Regions from separate parts of the Homo sapiens genome. Here all the other regions are linked to region 1. Evidence: fine-mapped expression QTL. A gene starts in region 1. Each other region holds a variant in brackets. All regions are shown on one strand. Distances are between the middles of the regions.

Region 1 (8,252 bases):
TGCACATGGATGTTTATAGCAGCTTTATTCATAATGGCCTGAACTCAGAAGCAACCAAGATGTTCTGCAATAGGTGAGTGGGTAAATAAAGTGTGGTGCATCCAGAAAAGGGAACATTACTCAGTGCCAGAGGAAATGATCAAGCCATGAAGAGACATGGAGGAAACTTAGATGCATATTGCTAAGTGAAAGAAGCCAGTCTGAAAAGGCTACAAACTGTATGGTTCCAATAATACGGCATTTATTCTAGAAAAGGCTAAACTATGGAGACAGCAAAAAGATCAGTGGTTGCCAGGGGCTGGGGGGTGGAGGGAGGGATGAACAGGCAGAGCACAGAGGATTCTTAGGGCAGCGAAACTGTTCTATATGATACTCTAACAGTAGACACGTACCATTGTACACTTGCCCAGACCCATAGAACGTACAAGCCAAGAGTGAGTTCTCACATAAACTATGAACTATGGGGGATAATGATGCAACAACGGAGGTGCCTCAGTTGTAACAAATGTCCCACTGTGCTGGGGATGTTGATAGTGAGGGGGGTTGTGCATGTGTGGGGCAAAGGTTATGGGAAATCTCTGTACCTTCTGCTTACTTTTGCTCTGAACCTAAAAGTGTTCTAAAAGCCTGGCCAACACGGTGAAACCCCATCTCTACTAAAAATACAAAAATTAGCTGGGTGTGGTGTTGGGCGCCTGTAATCCCAGCTACTCGGGAGGCTGAGGCAGGAGAATCACTTGAACCCGAGAGGCAGAGGTTGCAGTGAGCTGAGATCGAGCCATTGCACTCCAGCCTGGGGTACAAGAGCGAGACTTCGTCTCAAAAAAAAAAAAATAAAAATAAAGTCTATTTAAAACAAACAAGCAAACAAACACAGAAACATGGCTTCTCCAGCCCTCACCGTTTGGATGCACGGCACACTCCCTCTGCCTGTGTGCTTTATCTTTCTATTCTGCCACACTGAGGTTTCCCAACTATTGCCCCAGGGGACATTGTCCTCATTTCAATTTGTATTTTTAATAGCACTTCTTTCTGATGACAAAAAGAGTACATGTACAAAGTTTGGAAAATAAAAAGAAAAAGAAGTAGGAGAAAAAAACCCCACCCCGAATTGCTCCACCTGGAGATATCAATCACGTTTTGGATCGCGGCTGGCACGATACTGTTTACATTAAACTGTATTATCCTGTTAACATCACATTTCCCTATCATGAGAAACTTCAAGAACATATTCTTTTGGTAAACATTTCATACATGGCCATACTATAGTTTAGTTAATCATTCGGCATTCAGGTGGTGATATTTAGATGTGTTCAGTTTTGCATTATTATAAATAATGTGATGAACATCTGTGTGGTGAAAGCTTTGCCAAATTTTTGAATTAAATCATAGACTTGGAATTATAGGGTGGAAGAATATGGATATTTTGGTTATTCTTATTCTATTACAAGATTGCTTTCTAGAAATTCTGTTATCTGTTTACACTCTCAGAAGTAGAATGTGAGTTTCTGTCTCTATGGTTTTATTAAGTAACATAATTTAAAAAATAATTTGTTGATTTGATGAAAATGAAAACAGAAATGGTATTTCATTGATTTAATGAACCTTTCTTTTTGTCTGGTAAGTCTGACTTTCGAAAACCTATTTATTAATTATTTGAATATCCAATTTTATAAATTGTCTACTATATATTGGGGTTTTAATGTTTTTCTTATGAATTTGTAAGAGTTCTATTTTATTGCCAAAAAAATTTTCCCTAGTTTCTTACAGTTTAATTTTTATGTCAAACTTATTTTCAAAATGGGAATAACTCTTTTCCTGGTAATTAAAATAACGGGCTGTCATGGTAAAAAAAAATAACATACTATAGAAAATTATACAGAAAAAAGTAAAAATCTACATTCTACCCCTTGAACTTGTACTAACATTTTTAGATCATTTCCTCCCAAACTTTTATCCTATGTTTTTATGGTATTTTCTGAAGTTTAAGAATTCTAATTTTTATGTACCTCAAAGCAAGCATTTTAAAATTTCAATATATTCTCCAGTGCTTTTGTGTTTAGAAATATCTTTTTAATCTAGCGATCTGATAAAAAATCACCTCTAAAAAAACAGAGCTGTGATTCTTTTTTTTTTTGAGATGGAGTTTTGCTCTCGTTGCCTAGGCTGGAGTGCAATGGTGCGATCTCGGCTCACCGCAACCTCTGCCTCCTAGGTTCAAGTGATTCTCCTGCCTCAGTCTTCCGAGTAGCTGGGCTTACAGGCATGCACCACAACGCCCGGCTAATTTTGTATTTTTAGTAGAGACAGGGTTTCTCCATGTTGGTTAGGCTGGTCTCGAACTCCCAACCTCAAGTGATCCGCCTGCCTTGGCCTCCCAAAGTGCTGGGATTATAGGCAAGGCATTATGTCATATTATAGAATATTAAGGAAATTAAGGGGGAAAGAAGTCAGCCTTAATGCCTGGACCCTAACACATCTGCTTCCTTTATGCATTGTTCTTTCAAGACATTGATCATGAGCTTTTAATTTATTTTAATTTATTTTTATATGGTTGCAAGTACAATTTCCTATCTTTTCCTTTCCTTCATAATTATGCCCTAAGCATTATTTTCTTGTTGCTACGTAGTCTCGGTAATGGTTGTTTTAAATGATTCCCAATGGCCCCTCCTGTGGCTGTGCTGTCACAGCTGACCCCATCCCTCTAATGAACACTTCCGTTGCTTCCAATTTTTCTGTCAAGCGATATTTAGAAACACCAGAGTCCAGTGAAGCAGAATCTCCCACTGTTCCCTGGGGGCTGACTGTAATGCAATTTGACTTTGCTCATTTCCTCCTTTCCTCAGAGGAGTGTTGGAAGAAATCACTTTTAGAGAATGGTTAGAAAAACGACCAACAGAAAATGAGGAGGAAGGAGATCATGAGCTGAAAGCATGTTGAGCTTTTAGGAGGAAGCTGCTTTAGAAGCCCAGACTGTGTAGGTTTTGCTTTTGTGACTCACAAATCGGGCATGAGTTTATAATAATTTTGACAGATGCTTTTCACTCATGCAGCGCTTGGTGCTTTTGAGGGCATTGGTGCAGGAAGGCTTGATGCAGAATCTCTGCTTATCATTTGCTGTCTGTGTGACCTACATCAGCGGCGCCTCAGTCTGTCTTCCTGCAGAATAAGAATACAGTCAGCCCTCTGCATCTGTGGGTTGGGCATCCATGGATCCAACCAACTGTGGACTGAAAATATTTGGAAAAATACAATAAAAAGTAAGACTACAACAATAAAATAATATAAATAAAAAACAAGGCCGGGCACGGTGGCTCACACCTATAATCCCAGCACTTTGGGAGGCCAAGGCGGGAGGATCACGAGGTCAGGAGATGGAGACCATCTTGGCCAACATGGTGAAACTCCGTCTCTACTAAAAATACAAAAATTAGCTGGGCATGGTGGCACGTGCCTGTAGTCCCAGCTGCTCGGGGGGCTGAGGCAGGAGAATCACTTGAACCCGGGAGGCAGAGGTTGCAGTGAGCCCAGATTGCGCCACTGCACCCCAGACTGGCGACAGAGTGAGACTCTGTCTAAAAATAAATAAATAAATAAATAAAAAATACAGCGTTAACAACTATTTACATAGTATTTAAATTGTATTAGCTATTACAAGAATCTAGAGATAATTTAAAGTATTTTGGAGGATTTGTGTACGCTATATGCAGATACTGTGTCAATTCATATGAGGGACTTGAGCATCCCTGGATTTTGGTATCCACGGATGTGCTGGAACCAGTCCCCTGGGGGATACCGAGGGACATCATGATAATAGGCCCGGAAGAGGACAGACGAACACACTGGGCCATGGGGCAGCACTGAGCGGTGGTGGAAGAACCCCGAGTAGCCGGAGAAAGAGCAGGAGGGCCTTCCAGGGAAGAGGGAATGGCCTGTGTGAACCCAGGCTGAACCTCTCATTCCTGGGACTCGATTTCTCCATTTGTACAAACTGCTTGGTTTGTGGTCTGCAAGAGCCCTTCCTGTTCCTCCAGGAAGCCTCTCAGGGACCTCTGTCCCTGGCCAGCTCTGCTCCTCTGACCGCTGCGGGTCCTGCAGGCCATAGCCCTGGCTCCTGTGTGTGCACCAGACACGTCTAGGCCTCTTCAGCGGGACCTATCTCTCTGCTCAACTCAATCAACAGTTCTTTAGAAATTTCCAGGGGCAGCAAAGTGCTGTAGCCCCTGACATGTTTTAGGGCTGAATGGGGGTGGGTATCAGCAGACTCAATACGTATTTATTAACTTAAAAGAAGTGTCATTGGTCTATTGGCAAAGCTGGTTAGCAATAACCTTATCTTCTCCAGGAATAATGATCACTAATCATTCCTTCCTGCTGGGGGTAGGAGACAACCCGGCGTATGGTGGTGGAGCACCTGGGAGACAGAGGCAGAGATCTCGTTCCTCGATCCCGGCGCGTTGGTTGTAAAGTAGGAACAGTAATAGCACCTACCTCTAGGGCCACGGAGACCGAATGAAATAATGCCTGTCAAGTCACTTAGTACACAGTAAGCACTCAGTAATGCTAGGTTGTTGTTATTATAATAAATTTTTAGCGAACGGGAAGACCAAGCACCGGTTGGTACTGGGCTAGGCGCCGTAGGCAAAGATGTGGAGATGTCCCGGAGGCGCCTAGGGTATCCGGGCGAAAACCCGAGGGCCGAAGGCTGGGAGGAGGCGGAGCGTCGGGCACCGGGCACCGGGCACCGGGCGGGAGGTGAGCCCCTGGAAAAGGAGGGGGCTCCGGGCGCGTTCTCCCAGCAGCCGCGGCTCCTCTGTTCAGGGCCGCGCCCCCTTCGCCGCACTTTCTCTTTGATTTCGAAAGCACTCCTCTCCTCCACCTAGTCTCCTTTCCTGGGTTGCAGGAGATTACTGCTTGCGGGGAAGACCAAGACGCCAGGCCGGCGGATTAGTCCCCGCCCCGGGGCGGTGCAGCTGGAGCGTCAGGGGAGTCCCGCTCGCCGCAGCCCCAGCGCCGCGCGCGCCCCTCCCTCCTCGCGGACCTGGCGGTGCCGGCGCCCGGAGTGGCCCTTTAAAAGGCAGCTTATTGTCCGGAGGGGGCGGGCGGGGGGCGCCGACCGCGGCCTGAGGCCCGGCCCCTCCCCTCTCCCTCCCTCTGTCCCCGCGTCGCTCGCTGGCTAGCTCGCTGGCTCGCTCGCCCGTCCGGCGCACGCTCCGCCTCCGTCAGTTGGCTCCGCTGTCGGGTGCGCGGCGTGGAGCGGCAGCCGGTCTGGACGCGCGGCCGGGGCTGGGGGCTGGGAGCGCGGCGCGCAAGATCTCCCCGCGCGAGAGCGGCCCCTGCCACCGGGCGAGGCCTGCGCCGCGATGGCAGAGATGGGCAGTAAAGGGGTGACGGCGGGAAAGATCGCCAGCAACGTGCAGAAGAAGCTCACCCGCGCGCAGGAGAAGGTGAGCGAGCCGGAGCCCCAGCAGCCGCGGAGTCCCAGCCGCCGCGGAGCCCCGGCCACCTGTCCCCCTATCCTCCGACCCCGGGGCCTGGTCCTTCGCCAGGATCTGGTGCTGTCACCTCTAGAGGAGCGCTTTCGAGGGGCTTCGAGGTCCCCAGGCTGCGTTCCCCGGCGCTCTGGGTGCCCTCTTAGGTTTGCGTCCTCTGTCTCCCCACACCCGGCCGGGGCAGGACAGGGCCCCGCTTTGCACCTTCGTGGCTCGGCTGCACAGCAGTGGCCGGCCCTGCTCCAGGCTCTTCTCAGGCGCGCGCTCCAGGCTACCCCGCTTTGGAGGCCAAGGGCCGGGAGGCTGGGAGGCCAGGTGGTGACCCTCAGCTCTCCAGGCCCATGCAGGCAACCTAGGCTGGGCCGGCGCTCGGGGCGAGAGGGAGTATGTCCCTCTGCCCCTGGGGACACTATTCCCCCGGACTCCCAAGGCTGCTTCTCGAACCGGCACCCACAGTTCCTTCCTTCCCACTGCTTCTCCACTTTCGTTCTCCGTGGGCCGAAGGAGGGATTGGGTTTCCTTTCCCGAGAGGTGCCTGCGGCCTGGAAGCTCCCGCCCAGCCCGGCCCCACCGGGAGCCCAGGGCTACGCACCCCGCAAGGAGGTGCCCTCGCCCCAGCAGGGGCTTAGCGTTTCCGGCGGCCGGGGAGCGGGTGGCGGCACTGGCTTTGGGAGCCCACGGCCGGGTGGGGAGCTGGCCTGGAGGAGGCGCGTGGAAGGCGCCACAGGAAACCCGACCCCTCCTCGCGGAGAGCTGGAATGGGGGATGGAGCCGGGGCCTCCCAGGGTGCCCAGAGCGTGCAGGAAATGCAGAGATTGAGGGGCGGGGGTCTGCACCCGGTCAGTTGTCTATCCCAAGCCACCTCTGGTTTATTGAATTGGATCACGCCAGCTGCTGACGCCACTTCCCCTGACGACTCCAACTCTGAAATCTGAGATTGCAGAATCTGTGTTTCTGCCAGGGTGGCCCCCCAGTGCCCCGCGGCCAGGCCTGCCCCCTCTCCCACCCGCTGCGCGGCCGCCGGGTGGAGGCGCAGGGACAGGCCGGCCTTCCCCTGCCAGGCCTGGTGGCTGTTTATAAACAATGACTTTTGCTTCTGAGACCCGCGGGCTCCCTAAGGATGCAACCACGTGATTGCTGGGGGATGGGGGAGAGGGGGGCGCCTAGAGCTTCCCCATACCTCCCTCAGAGTCCTACTGCTCATCCCTGTGTTTCCTGGCTAAGGAGGTGGGTGGGTGTGCATTGAAGGAAGGGCCCTCAGCCAAGTCCAGGTTTGCCCAGACCCAGCTCCCCAACCCCCCACCCCAGGGAAGGAGGAGGAGGAGGAGGAGGAGGAGGAGGAGGAGGGATTAAAGCCCCAGGAATAGCTGGCTGGGGGCTGGGAAGACTTCAGGTTGTGGGGTGGGGGGGTGGCAGCACAGATGCAGCCACCCCTGCTCCGGGCTGCCATGACTGGGTAATCCATCTGTGTGCCTGGAGCAGGCAGCCCTGGGCCAGAGCCTGCTTCCTTCCCTAAAGGGCCAGGGAGATGAATGGGAAGGGAGGTTAGCTGAGCTGTGTTCCCTGCCCCCTTCCCACTGGTGTCCCACCCCTTCCTGGCTCCCCAAGGCTCTTGGTGTGTCTCCTTTGCCCTGGTTGTCTTTTCTCTGCAGCAGCATCTTTGATGTCATTCTCGGGGCAGTAGGCAAGGGCTGTGTCCCCTCCAAGGAGGTGGTGATGTATCACTGAGCTCCTGAGACACCATCCCTCTCTCTTGAGCCCCTGTTCTGTGGCCACGGGCAGTTGGCTGACAGTTGGTCAGCTAGGCATGCTGGTCTTGGCCAACAGCTGACCTTGCCCATGCCGGGCTTCCTGGGACTGGAGTTGTTTAGTGTTCCAGCTGCTCTCTGCCTGCCGGAGACTAGTTAGGGACCCTCCCCCCATCAGAAACCAAGGCAGCATGACCATCATGACAGGCATCCAGGCCAGGTCTCTGAAAGTAGCCTTCCCCTCCCTTTGGGTTGCAGGCCCTGCTCGCAGGAAGCCCCATGCCTCAACCCACAGCAGCCTCTGCTGTGTGCCTTCCTGTAGAGTCTGTGCCATCATTGGAGGGTCATCCTCAGTGTCTTCTGTTGGTGATCAGTGCCGCCTCTAACTCCCACTGTCAATGAAACTGGAATCCTAGTCTCTTACAGGCAGCCCCACCACTATACCTACCTTGCCTTGGTGAAATCAGTGGGTAATAGGGCAATTCCAGTTTCCCTGTGGCTACAGGAAGGCGTTTCCTGAGCAAGGATGGCAGGAGCTGTGCTGGGAGGCTGGGAGAGTCCTGGCGTCCTGGCGTAGGAAGAAGGGCCCGTATCTTGCATCCACCCTTCACCCCCGGCCTTCCCACATCCACTTCCAGCCCAAACAAACATCCAGACTGTGAGGGTGACAGTGTGGTCAAGGGCAGCCTGCACTCTTGTAGGGTCCCCAAGCCAGCTCTTTTTTGACTGTTGTTACCTGTTGACCCTTCTGCCTCCACCACTGGTCTGGCTGATCCCTGAGGGCACGGCAGGGCACATCCAGGTGTGTGCATTGAGGATGTTACCTGGCCCCAGTCGGTGCTTAGTGAATGTTTTTGAACAAGGGATTTGGGCCTGACGCAGGCTGATGGTGGATTGATTTGTGTTGTTTGTTCTCTGCCATCACTCATTCATCAAATCCTGCCTGGACACAGGCCCAGTGCCTCCTGGGCTGAGTCCCCGATGCTGTCTCAGGCAGGGTGCATGTGTCTGG
Region 2 (8,000 bases), 24 kb after region 1:
TCCAGCCCTCCTGGTTGGAAGGTGGTGGGGTGGCTGATAAAATCCAAGGGCTTGGTAGCGGTGGGCCGTGTGCGGATTCTAGCTCATTGCTTACTGACATGGGACTCTCGGTTTCCTCACTGTGAAACGCCTCCCTCCCCTGCCAGGATTTGGAGCACATGTGGTCTTTGGATGAGCGGTTCCTGCTCTGCCGTCCGTCCTGCACTGCCCTTGGCTGGTCCAGCCCCGCCGGCCACTGTGAGAGTGCTCACCCCAGCCCCCTCCCAGCCTGACTCTGGCCCCTGCTGCCTCCACTCACGCTGTGTGCTCTGCTCGGGGCTCCCCAGGCCACCGCAGCCCACCCTGGCTTCCTCTGGGGTCCACGTGGCACCACCCTGGCTGCAGGCCATAGGCTTATCTACAGAACCGGCTGGAATTTCAGGCACCCTGGGAGGGATGAGAGAGAGGACGGGGAGGGGGCCTTCCTGGCCTGGAGTCAACTGGACACTCGTTCTCTGGGGCGGGAGCCTTCCCTTCCAGCTGCAGAGATGAGTGTGGAGGAGGAGACCCTGCAACTTCCTTCCCCTCCCCCTTCTTTCTCAGGGGCGGGGCTGGGCTGCCAGCTCTGATGCAGACAGGACCTCCAGGGGCCGGCCGGGCTGGGAGGGCTCTCTGTGTTTTCGTTTTTGACCATCAAAGCATTGTGGTGGGGCTGACGTAGTTGGTCAAGTTTTTATTGTCAGTTAAGGATGTAAAAGAGAAAACCCAACACCACTTTTTGCTCTCACCAGTATTTCACAAAGGAAAGGGAAAATCACCAAAAAGAGGAAGGAGATCATCATTTTAGAGTGACGGCCTCCCAAGAGAGGCCAGGCAGCTTCCTCAGTCAGCCTTTCTGAGCAGGGGACCACGGAAAAGTGTGATGAGTCTTTGTGGACTGGTGTCAGGGGACGGAGCATGGGGGCTTGTCAAAAAGGTGGATCGCCATGTGGGGGTGAGGCCAGGCGCTTCCTGGGGGTCATGGACTTGTTAAAAAGACGGATCACTGTCTGGACGCGGTGGCTCATGCCTATAATCCTAGCACTTTGGGAGGTCGAGGCGGGTGGATCACGAGGTCAGGGGTTCGAAACCAGCCTGGCCAGCATGGTGAAACCCCATCTCTACTAAAAATTCAAAAATTAGCCAGGCGTGGTGACGTGCGCCTGTAGTCCCAGCGACTCTGGAGGCTGAGGCAGGGGAATTGCTTGAACCGGGGAGGCAGAGGTTGCGGTGAGCCGAGATTGCACCACTGCACTCCAGCCTGGGCAACAGAGCGAGATTCTGTCTTAAAAAAAAAAAAAAGAAAAAAAGATGGATTACCATGTGGGGGCGAGGCCAGGCCTTCCTGGGAGGAATGTCTTCCCGGTTTTGTATTTCATCGTGAAAATCTTTGTCAGCTTTGCGTTCTAATCCACAAGCTGTCTATGTTGGTTATGTCACAAAAGTGTTTTCTTTACCAGTTCGATCTTTGGATCAAAGCAAGATGGAGTGTGAATCTTCTTCAGCAAGCTCCAGACACACGCCCGCTCCCCCCAGTGTCTGTGTGCCCCAGTTTGGGAGTCAAAAGTTGAGTCTGGGCTTTGGAACTGATCAGGTGTGGCATCCTGGCTCTAGAGCTCATTAGCTGAGTGACCGCCCTGACCCTCGATTTCTTCATCTGTAAAATAGGACCAACGGTCATCACCTCAGGGTGGCCTAGGGATATGAACCCAACGGGAGGGGGTTCAAGGGTGATGTGTCCCCCAAGGTGAGTCCTTGGAGGAGAGATTCCCTGGTGGTCATGCTTTGCACTGTGAGCTTTGTGGAGCTTACCTAGAGGGGCACATGTGGGGGCCTCAACTGGGCTCCATAGGGAAGGAATTTGATGGGGAGGGAGTCCCCTCTGAAGTGAGAGCTGAGCTGGCAGCATCTCCCTCGAGGGAGGGCAGGTTGACAGATGCCTGTCCCTAGAGCCAGCCCCTCCTGCCACCACCTCATATCCAGCCCAGGGGACATGGGGGCCCCAGGTATGGGGGCACAGAGGAGCTAGGGAAGGGGGCTGAGGCCTGGCTCAGCTCCCCCTTTCGGAGCAGCCCTGAGGGTGTGAGCTGAGGGGGAGGACCCCATTCCCCCAGAGGTGCTGGGCCCTTCCTGCTGGGGGTGCGTCTGGCCACCCTGGGCTCGCTCTTGGTTTCCCCATCTCTGGTTTTCTTTCGGGCTCCTTCCTCATTATGGGCTCTCCCCGGGCCTCCCTCTGCCTCTTGCTTGTCTCTGTGGCTTCTTCGTGGTTCCTCCACTTTCCTACTGTGCCCAGGAGGGCCATGAACAGGTGGCTCTGCCAGGGAGGGTGTGTGTGAGCGTGTGTGGGCGTCATCTCACACTGGAGGTGCTTGCTGCATGTACATGGCCGAGCTTGTGCTGCTGTGTGGGGCCCTGAGGGCTGGGGAGCGTTCTTGCCTCCAGATGGAATGCACTTATCTTTAAAGTCATTGTGCCTTTGAGAAGTTGGAAGGCATAGCCTGAAGGGTGGCTAGCCGCTAAGAAGTGTGCTGTGTGTTCTGGGCTTGCTTCCTGGGACTCACTTCCCGGTGCCCCTGGGCTCTGCTCTCCAGCAGGAACCTGGGCCACTTCTCCCCTTTGCAGCCACAGCTGGGGCTGCTGCAAGGGGCCCAGCTGCCCGTAGCTTTCCCAAGGAGTCTGGGACCCTCATTCTAGCCCCTCTGTCCTTGGCTGCAGGTCTGGGTGCCCTCCCCTCCCAACCTGAGGGTGAAGCAGCAGCTCTGGGGTGGGGCGGGGCGGGGGATGGAGGGAGAACAAGGCCTCAATCGTCACCAGGAGACTGCTAGCTTCTGGGTTAAGCACTGCTGCTCTGAAGACGCCTCTGTACGTGTGACTTCACTGGGTTCTGAGGAGGAAGAGAGTTTCCCTGGGCTGGATGAGACCAGGAAGCTGCCCCTTGTGCAGTCACCAGCCTGGGGCAGGTGCCACAGCCCACAGTCAGTGTGGCCTCCTAAGGAACACTGCAATGGGCTCAGAGGGCAGCTGCTAGGCCATGGGTCTGTCTCCTTTCTCACTTCTTGAAGCAGACAGACCTGAGTGATGATGCTTGTTCACCACCACCACAAAGCCACAGAATCTGAGCTCGGTCGCTTCTTCGCTGCAGAGCCAAATCCTTCAGTGCCGCAGCCTTTCCTTTCTTATCTCTAAAGCAGGGGTAATAATCTGCGGCTCTGAGCATGAGGGAACGCTGAAATGCCTAAGAGCAATGAGCATGCCTCTCCACCGAAGGAAATCAGGGTTCCTTGGAGAAATGGCTGATGCCAGGGCTGGGGCAGGGACAGTGCAGGCTGAGCCTGGAGAATCTGCTAGTGCCAGAAAGTAAGGAAGCGCCTGGAGATGAATGAGGACGTGTCCGAAACCTCCCACTGGTCGCACTTGGGATGTTTGAGCATCAAAATGAATCACGAACGCAAAACGAAGGACTCACGATATCCTCACCACCCTCCTCGCAAAGGCAAGACCAGGGGAGGCTCGTGTTTGTGGAATGCCGGGTCACGTGGAGGAGATTGGGTAACAGCGGGTTCCAGCCAAGATGCTATTGCAGTGCTTCTCAGACTTCACTGCGCATACGGTGCGCCAGG[G/A]GGACTTGTTAAAGGGAACACTCTGGTTCAGCAGGTCTGCAGTTTTTTTTCTCCTCCAGGCTCTTGGAAGACTGTCATGCAGCTGCCCACAGACCTCACACTGAATAGCAAAGAATGATGGATAGTAAAGGCACTGTGCAAAAATTTCAACAACTTTTTGCCTTGCCACAGTGACCGTGATTGTCCTGCAGATGACTAAGAGAAAAGTGACCTTCCTTTCCAAGAGATCTGGCAAACACGACTCAGACCCGGCGGTCAAGCCTAACACAGCTGTGGTGCGGTGGGAAGGCTCAGCCTCCCTCTGCAGGACTCTTGCCAAAGCAGCCTTTAACCTGAACTTCCTCACAAGGAAACAATCAGATGGATCCAGAGTGTGGGGCATTCTCCAAGTGATTGGTTTGCACTCTTAAAAAGATACCAGTATCACGAAAGAAAAAAAATGGATAACATTGATAAATAGGCATACGGGGAATATTCTGGACTAAAGGAACAAGAGACCCGACAATCAGAAGCAATATGTGAACCACAGTTGGATCCTAGACCCAGACATAAAGGGCATTTGGGGGGCACCCAAGGATATTTGAATGCGGACCGTGTGGTAGATGGTATTTTAAAATACATTTTGGATGTATTGGGGGTGCTTATGGTATCATGGGCATTTTGGAGCATGTTCTTGTTCTTAGGAAATCTGTTGGAGTATTTAGGGGTGAAGTATTGTGGAGCGAAGGTCATCCCAGTGACCCTTCTGCTGCTTACCTTCTGTTGGCTGGGCAAACATACAAATGCAGGAACGGTTTATATATAGAGAAAAGTGACTGGGCACGGTGGCTTGTACCTGCAATCCCAGCACCTTGAGGGTGCTGAGGTGGGAGGATCACTTGAGGCTAGGAGTTCCAGACAAAACTGGGCAACATAGCGAGGCCCTGTCTCTACAAAAAGTAAAAATACTAGCTAGGTGCAGTGGCCTGTAGTCCCAGCTACTCGGGACGCTGAGGTGGGCGGATCGTTTAAGCTCAGAAAGTCTAGGCTACTGTGAGCCATGATTGCGCCATGTACTCTAGCTTGGACGACATAGCAAGAAAAGAGAAAAGCAAAAAAAAAGAAAAAAAAAAAAAGAAAAAAGCAAATGAGTGTGGCCAAGTGGTAACAGTTGATTGGTGAATCTGGGTGAAGGGTAGATGATAGTCCCTGTAGTATCCTTTCCACTTTCTTTGAGGTTTATACTTTGAAAATAAGGAGGTGAGAGGGCCACATGAAATGTGGAGGTGAGTGGTGGGCTTAGAACCTCTTTTCCTCCCTCTGCTCTCTCGTCAGGGCTGCTGTGGCCTCCTGCATGGCACCTAGATTGTTGGAGGCCACCGAGACTCTCCACCCAGAGGTGGGGAGCAGGCTTAGGTGGCTCCACTGTCGGAGTGGGGATGGGGAGGTGTGAGCAGCAGCCGGGAGAGGGGTCCTGTGTGTCTGGTTGCAGGGACAGCTCGCATTTGAGAGATGGGCTTGGAGGAGGGGTTGTGTGCTGGGGAACTAGGTGACTATGGGATCTGCGGGACTGTCCTCAGACTGGCTCCCTCTGCCCCTGGGGGTTTAAGACTCCCATTGTACCCCTTTCACCACTGCCACCCCAGCCTGATGTGTCAGACAGCAGGCAGCATCTTGGGGCAGGAGAGGGGAGGCAGAGGGCCTTGTACCCCTTCCCCTGCCTGGGCGCCCACCATGGCCTGCCCACGCCAACCCTGGTCTCGGTGCAGACTTGTCCTGCGATGTCCCTGGTATCCCCAGCTGAGTGCCTGCAAGGCCTCAGAGCTTGTGACCACGGAGGCCTTCAGCTGGCCATCCTGCCCTCTGTCTCCCCTGCAGGGGCCCCTGGAGCATGAGGGCGGAAAGATCCCCGAGGCCAGCCCTGTGTCATCATCCACAGCTCCCCAGCTTGGCTGACCCGAGCTGTGTGTGGGAGACGACGGAGGAGGAGGGGCAAGGAAAGATTGACAGAGGGACAGCCCCCGGGAGTCAGTGAGCGAGCCTGGACCCAGAGGTGGGGGGCGGGGGTGGGGAGAAGGCTCGCCTTTGTCCTGTTCTAGGGGCCCTCCTCCCTTTCGCCTCTTGGGGTGTCTCCCTCGGGACTGGGCCCAGAGAAAGCCTGGCCGGGTGTCTGACAGTGGCCTTCCCCCTGCCCGCCTGCCTGTCCTCTGTCTGTGTCTGCCTGCCTGGGGAGCCTCGGTGTGAGAACGCCGGGGCACGAGGGTGTGCATCCTGCCTCCGTGGCCCCCGACCGCAGGCTCTGCTGGGAGGAAGGGGCGAGACAGGGCTCACTTCTCAGCCCGCCCTTCCTGTGCAGGCAGGTGGGGAGGAGATGATGCGGAAGGTGAGGGCCTTATGCGTTTTCTGGGGTCTCAGCAGCTGGGTGGTGGGTGCCTGGGAGGGAGATTTGCTGGATGAGGTCCCCCTTCCATGTGTGTGTGGGGGTGGGGTGTTGGGAACTCTGCTGCCACTGCAGGGACGAGGGGTGCCGCTGGCTGGTGGAGGAGCCCCTAGCTTTCTGCCTGGCCCTGGCCAGGACCAGAGTGACTGGGAACGCGGCCCTCACCCCTCCTTCCTTAGGCTTCCCTCCTGGGCCCCTGGGCTGGTCCTTCTGATGGCCTTGGGAAGTGCTTATCCCTGCCCTGGGCCATGCCATTCAGACTGTGGGTGTGTGTCCCGCAAGTGCAGCAGGCCCACTGGTCTCTGGGGCCGAGGGAGGGATCAGAGACCCCAGGAGGGGCTGCTGGGGCCCAGCCGGGTGAGCCCGAAGACCCGGCCCTCCTCACTGTGGCGGCTAGAGCTCCTGGCCCCTCCTGACTGGACGGTGTCAGGCTGTGTCCTGATTTGTTTGTGCTCACCTGCCATCTGTCACATAAGGACACTTCCCTTCTGAGGAGGCGGCCCTGGTGACTTGAAGTGCGTGCATGGTGGGTGGGTGCTGTACGTGGTGAGCTGCTCCTGGCTCAAACAAGACAGGCCTGGGCACCCTTCCTCCTTCTGGGTTCGGTGGCCGTGCACTGCCTGTGCCCCATGACTCACGCTGTGGGTCAGGGCCTTGCCTGCCATGCGGGGGCTGTTGGAGGGTGGCAGGACTCCCTGTACCCACAGGGAGCGGCTGACGCCAGGGCCTTCTGCCCTCTCACTGGGCCATGACAAAGGCCTTGGCGGAGGGCTGGGGAGGGGCACCCACCCACGGGATGCTCCCACTGAGCCCCTGTGGACCCGGGTGCCGGAGGCATGGCGTCAACTCAGTGAACCACCCAGCCTTTCTAGGGAGGAGCCTTGGGAGGGTTTCCTTCCACAGCCGAGGCCCAGCGAGGCTGAACCCTGTGGATGATTGCAGGAGGAGGTTCTGGAGCTGGCCACGGGTTCACACTTTGTCATTCCTGCCACCTGCCCCCCCTCCCTGCCCTGCCCTGGGGTGTCCCCTCCAAGGCACTTCAGCTCCACTCACATCTGGCCTTGGGTTGAGGACATGGTGAGAGGAAGCTCTGATAGGAGGTGATTGGGTGTGGCACTGATAAAGCTCCTGGGACTGTTGGCTCTGTGGCTGCCTCTGCCGCCTGGGCCTCTGTGTGTCTCGTCCGCCGCCAAGTTTTCAAAGGCTCCCCTTTGTTTATCACAGAGTGAGTGTGCGTGATAAGTGTGTGATGAGTGTAGGTGGAACTGATTGTCTAAGGGGCCCTCACCCAGTAACCCTGGACAGAGTGCAAATCCTGGCCTGTGCCGCCAGACCCTCCTCCTCACCCAACTCCTGCTCATCCTTCAAAACCCAGCACAACTGTCCTGCCCAGCTTTCCTTAGTCGCTGCTGGGCCAGCCCCTCCTGGACACCTGGAGTCCCCTGTGTCCCTCAGTGGTCTGCCTGTGAGCTCGGCACAGGGGAGGCCCCACTAACCAAGTGTGGAACGGATGGGGTGGGAGATCTGTGTCCCAGGGCTCACGGCCTTGTCCCAGCTCCTGTTCTGGGGCAGGGGGTGCCCAGATTGTTTTTCCCTGTGGTAGCCACACCAGGAGCTCCTTGAGGATGGGGACCCCAGGCCACTTGCCTGCGTTCCCTCATGGATGAAATGGGGGTAGGTGCAGTGAGGATGGCATGTGGCCAAGGCCAGCCTCGCCCATGGGTCTTCCCTGGGCCTCGGCCATGCTGTGGCCTTGTTATTCCTCCCATTTCCAAGGCGGGGGCACTGGAGCACTGAGAGCTTCAGCAGCCTGAGGTCTCGCAGAGTGGGGAGACTGGCTCAGCCTCAGGCTTGCTGTCACCCCTCAGGGCTGAGGGCTTTCTGTACATTACCCTTCCATTTTGTCTGGGAGGAGCCTGAGGCTGAGAGGTGGGTTGTTTTGT
Region 3 (8,267 bases), 61 kb before region 1:
AGACCAGCCTGACCAACGTGGAGAAACCCTGTCTCTACTAAAAATACAAAATTAGCCGGGCGTGGTGGTGCATGCCTGTAATCTCAGTTACGGGGAGGCTGAGGCAGGAGAATCACTTGAACCCGGGAAGCGGAGGTTGCGGTGAGCTGAGATGATGCCATTGCACTCCAGCCTGGGCAAAGAGAGTGAAACTCCGTCTCAAAAAAAAAAATATTTGGTCAATTCTTCTTGGTCTCTTTCTCACACTGTGTGCGTGTGTGCATGTGTGAGTCGTTGGAAAATCAGTGGCAGACAGCATGTCACTTCCCCCGAACACTCCAGCAGCATCTCCTAAACACAGGCACATTCTCTGATATAACCTCGGTGCTGTTCTTGGTGCTATTATTCTTTTAAGAAAAGAATGGAAGGGAAAATATACTTGGCTTAGGAACGTGACAAATCCCCAGTGAGGCCTGGTTGCCAAGAGTGAGAACATGAGGAAGCCAGCTGGGAGAGTCTCCTTCCCTTGCTTTGAGGGAAATCCGAGGCCTAGCTTGTATTCACGTCATGACTTGAGCTTTACTTTGCTGTGCTTTGCAGGTGATTCATATGGGCAGGCATGATTTCATCTGAATGTGGAGGACCGTCTCTCAGGAACTCTAATTCTTCCCAGTGGAACTGTGAGAAACTCAGTCATTTGTCTTTTGCTTTTTTTTCCTCTTTTTACTTCACTGTCAATTTTCGAACCAGTATAGACGTTGAGGAAGTCTCATTCTTCTCAGACTGGCAGTCACTGCATACTGTGTAGTTACATCTTGCTGGTCATCAAAAAAATGCAAATTCATACGGGTGAAGAGATAGCTTAGGACCACATTAGTAAGTGTCCACAAGTTAGTAAATGCATGTTTGGCGGATGGTGAGGCCTGGTCCTTTGAAAGGAATGGCAAGCTGCGTGGGCACCCTTCGTGTGCAGGAGTGCACGTTTAGGTCATACTAGTTTTCAAGAACAATTCCAAAGTGTGGCCTGGGACCCCCAACACTACATTGCAACCAGTGAGCTACAACTCTCCCATCATCCCTCCAAACAACAAAGAGTTGATGAAGCAGTGTATACTAAAGATGGAAAACTGCAATATGTTCCTTTTTTAAAGCTATTTTCCTTCTGAATAATTTTTTTTTCTTTGAGACAGAGTCTGGCTCTGTCGTCCAGGCTGGAGTGCAGTGGCGTGATCATGGTTCACTGCAGCCTCAACTTCCCGGGCTCAAGCCATCCTCTCACCTCAGACTCCCGAGTAGTTCGGACTCCAGGTGTGCGCCACCATGCCTGGCTCACTTTTTCTATTGTTTGTAGAGATGAGTCTCACTGTATTGCCCAGGCTAGCCTTGAACTCCTAGACTCAAGCTATCTTCCCCCTTTGGCCTCCCAAAGTGCTGGGATTACAGACATGAACCACTATGCTGGGCTGTAATTTTTTTTTTTAAGCAATTGGTTCTTCACTTTTACTTTTGTATACATATTTTTTTTGTTATGTCTTTCTACTGCTGGATACGCAGGTGTCTCTGAAAATGGAACATTCCAGCTTTTAAAAACTTCATCATATGCTTTTTCATATGGCAGAAACCGACCTGTATTTTGAAAAGATAAAAAGTTTTGAGGCTGGGCACAGTGGCTCACGCCTGTAATCCCAGCACTTTGGGAGGCCGAGGCGGGTGGATCACCTGAGGTCAGGAGTTCAAGGCCAGCCTCACCAATATGGAGAAACCCCATCTCTACTAAAAATACAAAAATTAGCCAGGCATGGTGGCTCATGCATGTAATCCCAGCTACTCGGGAGGCTGAGGCAGGAGAATTGCTTGAACCCAAGAGGCGGAGGTTGCAGTGAGCTGAGGTAGTGCCATTGCACTCTAGCCTGGGCAACAAGAGCGAAACTCCATTTCCAAAAAAAAAAAAAAAAAAAAAAAAAAAGGTTTCAACCAAATGGTAGGGGAGGGATTTTAACGTTCACTTTAGAATCTCCTGGTGCCATTTCCCACAGCATAATCAAGATGCCACAGTTGATCTCATGTCAGAGTGATAGTGTAGCAGGACGAGCTGCAGACAAAACCCCTCAGACACCGAATTAAAGAAGGAAGGGCTTTATTCGGCCGGGAGCATAGGCAAGACTCACGTCTCAAAAACTGAGCTCCCCAAGTGAGCAATTCCTGTCCCTCTTAAGGGCTTACAACTCTAAGGGGGTCCACGTGAGAGGGTCGTGATTGATTGAACAAGCAGGGGGTACGTGACTGAGGGCTGCATACACAGGTAAGAATGGAACAGAACAGGACAGGGATTTTCACAGTGCCTTTCCATACAACGTCTGTAATCTATAGATAACATAACTGATTAGGTCAGGGGTCGATCTTTAACTACCAGGCCCAGGGTGTGGCGCAGGGCTGTCTGCCTGTGGATTTCATTTCTGCCTTTTAGTTTTTACTTCTTCTTTCTTTGGAGGCAGAAATTGGGCATAAGACAATATGAGGGGTGGTCTCCTCCCTTATTCGATGAGCCAGTTCTGCCCTAGTGGAGTTCGTCAGTGCTGTTAGACAGGAGCAACAATCCCCAACTCTACATTCAGAGCCCTTTCAGCTATTTTTCTCAAGTCCAACACAGCACAGCACCGACCTGGTACGTGCGGTCGACAATTTTCAGGGCACCTACCCAGCTCATTTCCTCTTGGCAAGAGCCATGCTTTTAATGTGAGAATGAACCCATGACCTCAGCTAGGCAGTCAGCTTCTCTCACAGCTATGGGAAGTGGACAGAGAGATGCCACCTGGGCAGCCTCGCCAGCTGTTTGGGCAGATGCCTGTGAACTTGGGTACCTAAGATGGCCACAGGCCGCCATGGGCACAGGGAGGCCAGAAACTTCGCTTTGCCTCCCAAGGGCAGCAGGATCTGGACAGGGATGCTGTCTGCACCTTATGGACTGCAGGGTAGGGGGCTGCACTGGCTCCTTTCTGCAGGATGAACTACTCATCTGGTGCTGTCACTCCTCCACTCCCCCTGGCTTATCTCACGTGGAAGAGCTGCAGCCATTGCCATTTAGATGGATTTTGCAATGCGATTCCTGACCTTTGATTCTATCCCCAGTGCCCTCAGGATAAATTCTGAACTCGCTGACTTAGAAGGCCTTCAGTAACCTGACCTGAAGCCTCTTCCTGCTCCCTCATCTCTTGGTACTTTTCCTCACATTACCTCACAGCCAAATGGTTAGGCACCTCTGGTTAGGCATTCACTGTCCCTCAGCCAGGAATGGTCTGTCTTCACTCCTGTCCCCTTCACCTGGCTCACTCCTGTTTAGTCTCCAGGTTTTAATGTCAATGCTACTTCCTCAGAGAAGCCTTTCACAGCCCATAAGGATGGGTTAGCTGCTCCTCCCATGGGACCCCAAGGTAACTTGTCCAGCTCCATTTAGGGTAAAAACAGCTCTCAGGCTGGGAGATTTTAAAATTCCAATTAGAATCTGCCTGCAGCATACACTGAAATCCTTGCACCATTCTGTAAGAGTCATCCCAGAGATGAAGTGGCATGTCCAAGCAGCTAGGCAAGCCGCCCTTCCCACCACAGTCACCCACCAGCAGCAGGCACCCAGGCAACCCCGC[A/G]GTAAGACAGGAGCACTTACACTCCAAGAGTCTCTCACCACAAAGGCGGTTGTTCATTGTTTCAGCAACTATGCTGCAAACACCCTCAGACTCAAACTCCACAAATGCATAGCCTATGTGAGTTGCAGTCCGCAACAGAAAATCCACAAGAAATAGACCAATCATCAGACTCCTAAATGCCGTTCATTTAAATTGTGTACATTTTTAAGCAGGTAGTATCATTAGCCTAATTATCAAATGACACTATGTCATCTTGTAATTCCAGTTCCAAAATCATATAGCTCAGAGCCTGCTATGGGAAAAGAAAATATCTTAATTTGAACATGCAGCTGAAGTTCACATATTCCTGGAATTTTGGTTAAATGTAATCAATACGTGATGACTATGGCTGGGATTGATTCAACAGCAACACCCCATTGTGGAGAGGAAATATGATAGTGCCCGGTTCTTTACCCCTTATCCACTTATTTGATTTCACTGACAGCTGTATTATTCATAATACTCCGGAGATAGTATAATGCTCTGTGAAGGACGAAGATAATATTCTCATATTGTTTATATGTGAGAGTTGAGATGAAACAAAAACAAATCCTCAGTATCTCCCGGCAAATCCATGAAACACTGCTCATTCTCATGCTCCAGCATGACCGGACACCTTCCCAGCGGGAGGCACGGGGACTGGGCCAGCACTCTTTGAAATGCACATCTCGAATTCGCCACTCGGCACCCTAGCACGAAGTGGGTTCTGTCACCTATCTTTGTAACAAGTATGTGGGTTTTGGAGTTCAAAGGCTCAGGTTTGGATTCTCGACTCTGATAAGTAAGGGTAAGTAACACTTAAGCATCATGAGCCTCAGTTTTCCATTCTGTAAAATGGGGATGCTAACCACTCTCAGGGTTGCTGTGAAGATATGAGATTGTGCACAAGAGCTCAACACAATGTGTGTCATGGACTCCATAAATGTTACCAGTGATTGGTGGTAATAACCAGAAAGGTTTTCTTTTTTTTTTTTCTTTTTTTTTGAGACTGATTCTCTCTCTGTCGCCCAGGCTGGAGCGCAGTGGCGCGATCTTGGCTCACTGCAAGCTCTGCCTCCCAGGTTCACGCCATTCTCCTGCCTCAACCTCCCCAGTAGCTGGGACTACAGGCGCCCGCCACCACACTTGGCTAATTTTTCATATTTTTAGTAGAGATGGGGTTTCACTGTGTTAGCCAGGATGGTCTCCATCTCCTGACCTCGTGATCTGCCCGCCTCGGCCTCCCAAAGTGCTGGGATTACAGGCATGAGCCACCGTGCCTGGCCCAGAAAGGTTTTCTAACCTTGCATTAGACAACATAGCTTTGGCTATGGATCAAAATTGGTGATGTGACTGGAGATAAGGAACCACCTGAAAGCCGCGTGGCTTAACAGGGTGGGAGTCAGGAGGCTCACTGCTAGCGCCAGCTGTGTCACTCATCAGCAGGTTGGCCACGCCCACCACTGGGTCTCAGGTTGGTTGTCCACAACAGAAGCATTCTAGTAAAAATTATTTTTTAATTATTTATTTATTTATTTGTTTTGAGACGGCATCTTGCTCTGTTGCCCAGGCTGGAGTGCAGTGGCCCGGTCTCGGCTCACTGCAGCCTCCACCTCCCGGGTTCAAGCAATTCTCCTGCCTCAGCCTCCCGAGTAGCTGTGATTACAGACACCCGCCACCATGCCTGGCTAATTTTTTGTATTGCTAGTAGAAATGGGGTTTCACCATGTTGGCCAGGCTGGTCTTGAACTCCTGACTTTGTGATCCACCTGCCTCAGCCTCCCACAGTGTTGGGATTACAGGCGTGACCCACCATGCCTAGCCACTCATTCTGGTAAAAATTAAACTGCCTGTAGCTGGGTGTGGTGGTGAGTGACTGGGGTCCTAGCTACTGAGGAGGCTGAGGTGGGAGGATTGCTGAATCCAGGAGTTTGAGACTGCAGTGAGCTAGGATCGCACCATTGCACTGCAGCCTGGGCAACAGAGGGAGACCCTGTCTTTTAAAGACATATTAGGCCAGGTGCAGTGGCTCATGCCTGTAATCCCAGCACTTTGGGAGGCCGAGGTGGGTGGATCATGAGGTCAGGAGTTCAAGACCAGCCTGGCCAATATGGTGAAACCCCGTCTCTACTAAAAATACAAAAATTAGCCGGGCTTGGTGGCACACACCTGTAGTCCGAGCTACTCGGTAGACTGAGGTAGGAGAATCGCTTGAACCCGGGAAGCGGAGGTTGCAGTGAACCAAGATTGTGCCATTGCATTCCAGCCTGGTGACAAAGCGAGACTCTGTCAAAAAAAAAAAAAAAATCAATGTCATGAAAAACAAAAAGCAAACACTGTTGTAGATTAAATAAGTAGCTTTCTACCTCCCACCCTGCCTGTAAAACCAAAGGGTGAAAGCATTTTGAGGATATCAGATTAAGCTCTATGTATTGACATAGTCTCCTAATTAACCTTCCTGTCCACTTACGTCTCCTAGAGTAGCTCCCTTGAACCTCAGTTAGTGTGACATGTCACTCTTGCTCAAAACTATGTTATATAATGGCCCATTAGACATCAGCCACATAACTGAGTCCTTCCTTTTTCCTCCACCTTATCTGTAGGAGAAAACACCTGTAAGACATTTTTTTTGGGGGGGGAAACTAGAACATTTTAAAGATGGGTGGTATACCATATACTGTGGAATTACTGTTATTTTTCTAGGTGTGATAGCAGTATTATGATTAGGTTGGAAAACACCCTTATTTTTAGGAGATGCACCCTGAAATATTTAAGGGCAAAGCACTATGGTGACACACTCAAATGGTTCAGAAAACAATGTGTCTGTCCATGGGCCGAGGTGAAGCTCATGTGTCTGGATGTTAACAGTGGGTGATGCCAGGTGACAGGTGCGTGGACGTTCATCACGCTGTCACTTCACCTTCTCTGTAGACTTGAACATTTTCAAAACCCAAAGTTGGGAAAAACAATGATGACTAGATAGCAGCATGAATTTTTTTTGCAAAATAATGTTGCGCAGAAGGTAGAGGAGATAGAATAATTTTTAGGATGAACAGGCAATTTGTAGTGGCTGCTAAACGTAAAGTAGTCAGCCTCACTAAGAATAAGGCAGATACGAAAACCCCGACCATTCTACACACAGAGTGACTGGCTAAGTGAATACTGCACAACCCGCCAATCCCATTTCTGACTGTATATTGTAAAGCAGTGGTTTTGAAATTCAGGATTTGTCCTGAGGGAGGAGAGGGGTGGGGCAAGGATGGGGCAGGGCCTCATGGTCCCGATTTCTCATTCCTTCTTTCACTGTCTCTCGAGGCAGTCCACGGGGGTCTGGGTCTTGCCCAGGGTCCCCAGAAAAGCTGCTTCTGCCTGATACAGCCTCTCCAGGACCAGTACCTTGAGAGCCTCTTGCTGTCAGTGGCCCCTCCATGGCCCAGAGTCCATGGCTATAACCCTCAGGCAGCCAGGACCCTTCTGTCCACAGACTGCAGAGAACATGGGAACATTCCGCTTGGAACCAAGCCAGACCTCATCGAGGTGGGAGGGGAACGAGCGCGTGAAAGGTGCTTCCCAACCTTACTCTCAATCCGACACCACAGACTCTGATAATAAATAAATCCCTCCTCCTGCACCCCCAGGGACACAGGCAGGCTGCTGCAGGCTGAGATGATGGCCTAGCGCTCTGGCCACCGGGGCCCTGGCCAGTTGCCATGAGAAATAAGGGAATCAATGCATTTTCACAGCCCCAGTCCATTGAAGGGTCAAAGGTTAGGAAGCTCCTCTGAGGAGAATTGGTAGGCTGTCAACACTGGTGATGGTCTTTCTTCTCTGGCCTCAGCTCTCCTTCTGTGGCCCTGGAGGCCTCCTCCTGCCCACAAAGGCCGCAGGACACTCCTGATTCAGCCCCTCCATGGTGTGCATGGGAAGGGTGTGAGACCATCCTGGAGGGCTCCACTAGGGGTTTCAACTTCTTGAATTTCACCTCCAAAAACTAGGGAAGAAGTAAATGGGATTTCCAGCTTTCACATTTGAAGATCGTGCCATCCCACAATGAGCATGGAAATCAGGATTTTCAAATTCCTCCTGCATGGAGTGAAGTGTGTGATGACACGGAAGTCCTTCAGGATAATGCTGTCCAGAGAGATGCTCTTAGGGCTATAAGATGCTGTATGGGGCGTGCTACGAGGGCCACCAGAGCTCCTCTGCAATGTGGGGGCTGGTCATTGTGCCGTGGGGTCCCAGGCCTCATCCACTCACTGAGCAGCTCAGTCTTGTTGGCAGCAAGTCTGTAGGTTGCCTGGGGCTTGGCTGATTTTGCCTGGTTGGCTTCAGCTGGTGGCTCTGTTGATTTTAGCTGGATTCCCTGTGGTGTCAGCTGAATGTCAGCTGGGCTTTGTGGCAGCTCTTATAGGGCAGCTCTGCTGGTCTCTGCCTGGCTTGCTCATGCATCTTGGGGTCAGGTGAGGGTCAGCCGATCCCGAGGTGGCTGGGTTGTGCTGGGTGGCTCTGCTGGTCTTCACTGGGCTTGCTGGTGCAGCTCAGGGTCAGTTGGAGTTTGGCTGGTCTAGGCTGGGTGCAGCTGGTGCTCAGTTCGCTGCACCTGTCTTCTCCTCTTCCTGGAATAGCAGG

The links. PIP is the estimated chance that this variant, and not a neighbour inherited with it, causes the effect.
Region 2: its variant is fine-mapped to the expression of BIN1 in whole blood (INTERVAL, PIP 0.96).
Region 3: its variant is fine-mapped to the expression of BIN1 in whole blood (INTERVAL, PIP above 0.99).

Annotation. Positions count from the first base shown.
Region 1 is chr2:127,104,055-127,112,306 of GRCh38, reverse strand. It overlaps BIN1 (bridging integrator 1), which reads left to right and starts at 5,153. Exons shown (of 19, transcript NM_139343.3): 1 at 5,153-5,447. The coding sequence starts at 5,364. It overlaps LOC105373605 (a long non-coding RNA gene), which reads right to left and starts at 5,162. Exons shown (of 4, transcript XR_923311.4): 1 at 4,492-5,162. RefSeq lists silencers at 5,026-5,085, 4,920-5,214, 5,096-5,305 and an enhancer at 8,025-8,252.
Region 2 is chr2:127,079,832-127,087,831 of GRCh38, reverse strand. All of the region lies in intron 1 of BIN1 (bridging integrator 1), which reads left to right. Among named protein-coding and RNA genes, the nearest start is that of BIN1, 23 kb to the left of the region's middle. RefSeq lists enhancers at 281-1,258, 2,666-2,805, 5,278-5,477, 5,518-5,577, 6,148-6,277 and 1 more. The variant G/A (reference allele first, on the strand shown) is at 3,639.
Region 3 is chr2:127,165,496-127,173,762 of GRCh38, reverse strand. It overlaps the pseudogene NIFKP9. Among named protein-coding and RNA genes, the nearest start is that of CYP27C1, 51 kb to the left of the region's middle. RefSeq lists enhancers at 2,266-2,817, 7,433-8,026, 8,027-8,267. The variant A/G (reference allele first, on the strand shown) is at 3,621.